2 separate regions of the Homo sapiens genome follow, and region 2 is linked to region 1. The links come from fine-mapping of genetic effects on gene expression. A gene starts in region 1. The other region holds a variant in brackets. All regions are shown on one strand. Distances are from middle to middle. Region 1 holds the start of NXNL2 (nucleoredoxin like 2). Region 2 has its middle 40 kb from the start of NXNL2.

What was found.
Region 2: its variant is fine-mapped to the expression of NXNL2 in prefrontal cortex (BrainSeq, PIP 0.92).

Annotation. Positions count from the first base shown.
Region 1 is chr9:88,533,918-88,536,823 of GRCh38, forward strand. NXNL2 (nucleoredoxin like 2) reads left to right here and starts at 1,261. Exons shown (of 2, transcript NM_001161625.2): 1 at 1,261-1,819. The coding sequence starts at 1,518. LOC105376134 (a long non-coding RNA gene) reads right to left here and starts at 623. Exons shown (of 2, transcript XR_007061653.1): 1 at 97-623. RefSeq lists enhancers at 1,047-1,881, 1,882-2,715.
Region 2 is chr9:88,573,883-88,576,788 of GRCh38, forward strand. It overlaps a transcript of NXNL2 not described here. Among named protein-coding and RNA genes, the nearest start is that of NXNL2, 40 kb to the left of the region's middle. The variant C/T (reference allele first, on the strand shown) is at 1,280.

The DNA.
Region 1 (2,906 bases):
CCCAGCCAGGCCACAGGATGTCAGGGGCAAACACCCTGAACCAACGGAGCTCAGGTTCCCTACCACCCCGCCCAAGCCCGCTCCAAGCCCAATTACCCTTCCCCTTCCTCGTCGTCCCATCCTCCCTGATGCCTCTTCCAGGGTGCTGGGCCGCGCGGCAAGAGCTCCAAGGCAAGATTCAAATGCCCTGGGGAGACGGCTGCGGGACACCTGCGGCGGGGCCCGGCAGGGAGCGCGAGACTGGAAGAGAGGCCAGGAGGGAAGGAGAGCGACGCGGGGTTTTGGGGGAGGGGCTGCGTGGGGCGCTGAAGGGGAGCGCGAGGAGTGGGAGGAAGTGAAGGAGGAGGAAGAGCACGGTGTGGGGGAAGCGCAGGAGGCAATAGGTGGGGCGGGACGGAGGGCAGGGCGCTGCGTCGGGAGAAAGTGTAGAAGCGCTGGGGAGAGTGCCCACGACGGGAGAGCCCAGGGGCGCGAGGGCGCGGGAGTGTGGGCGGGGCGCAGTGGGGATGGGGGCGGGGGCGCGGGATGTGGTAGGGGGCGTAGTGGGGAGAGAGTGCAGGAGTGTGGGCAGGGCGCAGTGTGGGGAGGGTGCGGGAGTGTGAGCGGGGCGCAGTGGAGGGAGTGCAGGATGTGGGCTGGACAACCAGTGGGAGAGGGCGCGGGAGGTGGGCGGGGCGCAGTCGGGATGGGGGCGGGGGCGCGGGATGTCGGCGGGCCGCAGTGAGGGGGAGGGCGCGGGAGTGTGGGCGGGGCGCAGTGGGGGAGGGAGCGGGAGTGTGCGCGGGGCGCAGTGAGGGGAAACTGTGGAATGTGGGCGAGGCGCAGTTGGAGAAGAGTGCGGGGATGTGGGCGGGGCGCAGTGAGGGGAAACTGTGGAATGTGGGCGAGGCGCAGTTGGAGGAGAGTGCGGGGATGTGGGCGGGGTGCGGTGGGGGAGGGTGCGGAGATGTGGGCGGGGCGCAGTGGGTGGAGAGTGTAGGGATGTGGGCCCAGCGCAGTGGGGGACAGTGTGGGGATGCGGGCGAGGCGCAGTGGGGGCGGGGGCGGGGATGTGGGCGGGGCGCAGTGGGTGGAGAGTGCGGGATGTGGGCGGGGCGCAGTGGGTGGAGAGTGCGGAATGTGGGCGGGGCGCAGTTGGGGAGCTTGCGGGGAATGTGGGCGGGGCGCAGTGGTGGGAGGGCGCAGGAGTGTGGGCGGGGCGCAGTTGGGGGAGGGTGCAGAGACCTGAGGGCTTGAGGTTGCCTGGCTGGCCCCGCTCCCAGAGGCGGGTGCCGCGCTGTCGCCCAGGTATCTGGGGTCTCTGGTGTCTGAGTGTCTCATTGTCGGCGCGAACACAATTGCTCCAGCCACAGGCGAGGCCTGGCCAAGGTGTGGGCGCATCTGGGGCAGGTCTTGAGAGGTCCAGCGCCCGGTGGTGCGGACAGAGGCGGGGCACCGCGGCGCTCGCCGCCGCCTCCCCGCAGGTGATCATCCTCCTGCAGGTGTCCTCGGGTCTCAGGTGGCTGCGTGTCTGCGCCATGGTTGACATTCTGGGCGAGCGGCACCTGGTGACCTGTAAGGGCGCGACGGTGGAGGCCGAGGCGGCGCTGCAGAACAAGGTGGTGGCACTGTACTTCGCGGCGGCCCGGTGCGCGCCGAGCCGCGACTTCACGCCGCTGCTCTGCGACTTCTATACGGCGCTGGTGGCCGAGGCGCGGCGGCCCGCGCCCTTCGAAGTGGTCTTCGTGTCAGCCGACGGCAGCTCCCAGGAGATGCTGGACTTCATGCGCGAGCTGCATGGCGCCTGGCTGGCGCTGCCCTTCCACGACCCCTACCGGCAGTGAGTGGGGGTCCTGGGGGGGCGGGGGCCGCCCGGCACGTCTCCCCCATGTTCCCCCAGGCCTCCCCCTCTGCACTGGGGAGCTCTTTATGACGCCCCCCCCCAACACCTCCCCGTCTCTCGGTTCACGTCCGGACTCCGGTAAATCACACTCAGTCTCAGTTTCAACCTCTCTTGGAGACCAGGGAGGGTGCAGACCAGATTCGAAAACCCAGGGCATCGGCACCCCAAGGGGGCTCGTGGAGCATGGACGCGGGCGCGTTTCTGCCTGGGGTCTGGAGCTCCGGGAATCTGCATTGCGAAGGAGCTCCCAGTGGTGGTGATGCTGTGAGTTCGCGGGCTCGGCTCCGGGAACCGCCGGCCCAATCAGCCCTGGACTCCCGGCGCCGCTGCGTCATCCTCCCAGTTAGTGGGCAGGAAGCACAGGGACATGACCCGGTGTCTGGATGCGGGGATGAGGGATGACCCGCGAGGACATCAGCTCTGTGACAGGCACCCACAGTGCAGGCCGTGGTTGGTTTGCTGGGAGGGAGGGACGGGGGCTTCAAGGCTGGCAGGAACCCAGGTGCTGGCCACCTTTGCGGTTTCATTTTTACCGACACTGATGGAATTTCATCACTAGAGAAGCATAAAACTCATTACTATAAACTTTATTACTCTAACTGTTGCAAAGGAGGGGGTAGGGATTGGCAGAGAGGGGATTACAGGGATTGATTGTTCTGCTTTTGGGGTGGGTCTCCTGTGGTCTCCTATGGTGTAAGAGTCCAGACTTAGGTTTAAAGCAGGCCTCGTCAAGTATGTTGTCCTGGCCACCCCCTTCTAGGTACCAATGTGAATTTCTGGGTTTTGCTTTACAGCCTCACATTTCTGGAGATTATCATTAAGTTGTGGCATTACCCCCTAAACTGATTATCATGAGATGACATTCCTTCTGGAAAATGAAAACTGGAAGCTAACTTTGGAAAGTTTTGTAGATGAGTAATTAATGGGAAGAAATCTAATTATTCCCCCAAACATGATTTTTGGTGATTCCCAGTGAAAGAGGAGGCCCAGGCAGGGCACCGCCCAGCCTTCCAGGGGGGTAACC
Region 2 (2,906 bases), 40 kb after region 1:
AGTAGTTATCAAATGAATGCAAATCAAAGGCACCGTGAGATACCACCTCCCTGCCACTAGCATGGATAGAATGAGAAAGACTGTTAATAACAAGTATTGGTGAGGATGTGGAGCCTCTGGAACATCTGTATTCCTGCTGGGATTGTAACATGGTGCAGCCTCTTTGTAAAACAGTTTAGTGGTTTCTTTAAAAAGTTAAATGTTTTCATATGGTCTAGCAATTCCACTCATATATATATACACCCAAGAGAACTGAAAACATATGCCCCAGAAAGGCATATACACAAATGTTCATAGCAGTATTATTCACCATTGTCAAACACTGGAAGCAACCCATATGTCTGTCAATTGATGAATGGATACACAAATGTGGTACCATACTGTAAACCAAAGAGTATCCGATACAAGTCTTGATCAATTTAGGAAGTTTATTTTGCCAAGGTTAAGGACATGCCTGTGACACAGCCTCAGGAGGTCCCGATGACATATGCCCAAGGTGGTCAGGGCACAGCTTAGTTTTATACATTTTAGGGAGACATGAGACATCAATCAATATATGTAAGATGTACATTGGTTTGGTCCAGAAAGGAGGGACAACTCGAAGCAAGGAGGGGGCTTCCAAGTCATAGGTAGATAAGAGACAAATGATTGCATTCTTTTGAGTTTCTGATTAGTTGTTCCAAAGGAAGCAATTAGATATGCATTTATGTCAGTGTGCAGAGAGATGATGTTGAGCTCTGTCTGTCCTTTGTCCACAGGAATTTCAGTAAGAAATAGGGCAGTGGAGATTTTGAGGTGGGGACTTCCTTATACAGCATATTTGGGGCTGGATCCTTAGGAAGAGGATTTTTAGCTGATCTGAATAGAGGGAAGGAGCCAGCTTGTTGGGGAGAGGAATGTTTTCCAGACTCGAATGGATTTTTGCGAAGACTGGAAACTTGCAGACGGCCAGGGGCGGGGGATCCTGGCAGGGGCCAGGTGGTCTGAGCACATGTGTTTGCAGATGTAGGGCCTGTCCCCACCATCCTGGGGGCATAACTCTAAGGACATTGCTGTTTTTCCAAAGGGCACACGTTGCATAACTTACTTTAAATAATTTCTTTTTGTAGGACTCTTTGATTTTGCAACTGCATTTTTAAGCTTAAGAGGAGGTCATTAAAAGATCTGGCACTAAGCTCACCCTCCCCTTCTTATTCCTTTGAAGCCATTGCTGTGAATTACGTGAGGGAAAGATATTGAAGAGGAGTTGGACACTCCGAGAGTGCAGCTGTTCTCCCCC[C/T]GCACCATCCGTGTCCTGCATTCTGCGAGTCTGTGCTCATTAACAATGTGCTGTGACCATGTGACTCAGCAATCCTGCTGCTGGGTATATACCCGAAAGAAAGGAAAAGGAAGCCAGTATATTGAAGAGGTATCTGCACCCCCATGTTTATTGCAGCACTGTTCACAACAGCCAAGATTTGGAAGCAACCTAAGTGTCCATCAACAGATGAATGGATAAAGAAAACGTGGTACATATACACAATGGAGTACTCTTCAGCCATTAAAAAAATGAGATTCTGTCATTTGCAATAATATAGATGGAAAAGGAGGCCCTTATGTGAAGTGAAATAAGCCAGGCACAGAAAGACAAACATCACATGTTCTCACTTATTTGTGGGATCTAATGATCAAAACAATTGAACTCTTGGACATAGAGAGTAGAAGGTTGGTTACCAGAAGCTGGAAAGGAAAGTGGGGTTGGGAGGAAGGTGGGAATGGTTAATAGGTACAAAAAAATACAAAGAATAAATAAGACCTAATATTTGATAGCACAACAGTGTGACTACTGTCAATAATCATTTAATTGTACATTTAAAAATAACTATAATTGCATTGTTTGTAACACAAAAGATAAATGCTTGAGGGGATGAATACTCCGATTCTTCATTATGTGATTATTATGCATTGCATGCCTGTATCAAAACATCTCATGTACCCCATAAATATACACACCTACTATGTACCCACAAAAATTAAAAATAAAAAAATTAGGCCAGGCACGGTGGCTCATACCTGTAATCCCAGCACTTTGGGAGACTGAGGCAGGTGAATCACGAGGTCAGGAGTTCGAGATCAGCCTGGCCAACATGGTGAAATCCCGTCTCTACTAAAAAATACAAAAGATTAGTTGGGTGTGGTGGTGGGCACCTGTAATCCCAGCTACTTGGGAGGCTGAAGCAGGAGAATTGCTTGAGCCCAGGAGACAGAGGTTACAGTGAGCCGAGATTGTGCCACTGCACTCCAGCCTGGGCGATGGAGCGAGACTCCGTCTCAAAAAGAAAACAAAACAAACAAACAAACAAACAAAATATTGAAAACCACAAACAAAAACCCAATGCGCCTGACTCTCCCGACATGTGAACCCACAGCGATGGACCTAGACTTCTCAAGGTTTCTCGACTCCTTTTATACCTGGTTCAACAGGTGGCTGCTTCTTTCTCACGTTGGGGACTCACACTTATGTGGTGGCCCTAGACCCCCAGCTCCCACGTGGGCCAGGTTTCCTCGTGATGTCCAAGGCCTCTTGAATTCTCCCCGTGCAGGGTGAGCAAAGACCTTGTCTGCTGAAGATAAAGTCTCCCAGGGGTGCTTGCTGAAGGAGGGAGAGAGACTTCCAGTTTGCTAGCAGGTGACAAGGGAGACATGTCTGCTCTCCTGAGGGGAGAAGGGGAAGAGGGAGAATGGCCAATGGAGGTGCGGGAGGGGCAGCTATTCCTCGGGGCCCACAAGCCTAGAAGGACAACTTGTGTCTTCTTGGCTGGGACTGCTCCCTTCTCCACCAGCCCCTCAAAGGGAAAGGGCAGAGCTTGTTTTCCTGGGACTATGGAGTAGACTACAGGCAGCCCGTAGCAGGGAGGTCGGCCCTG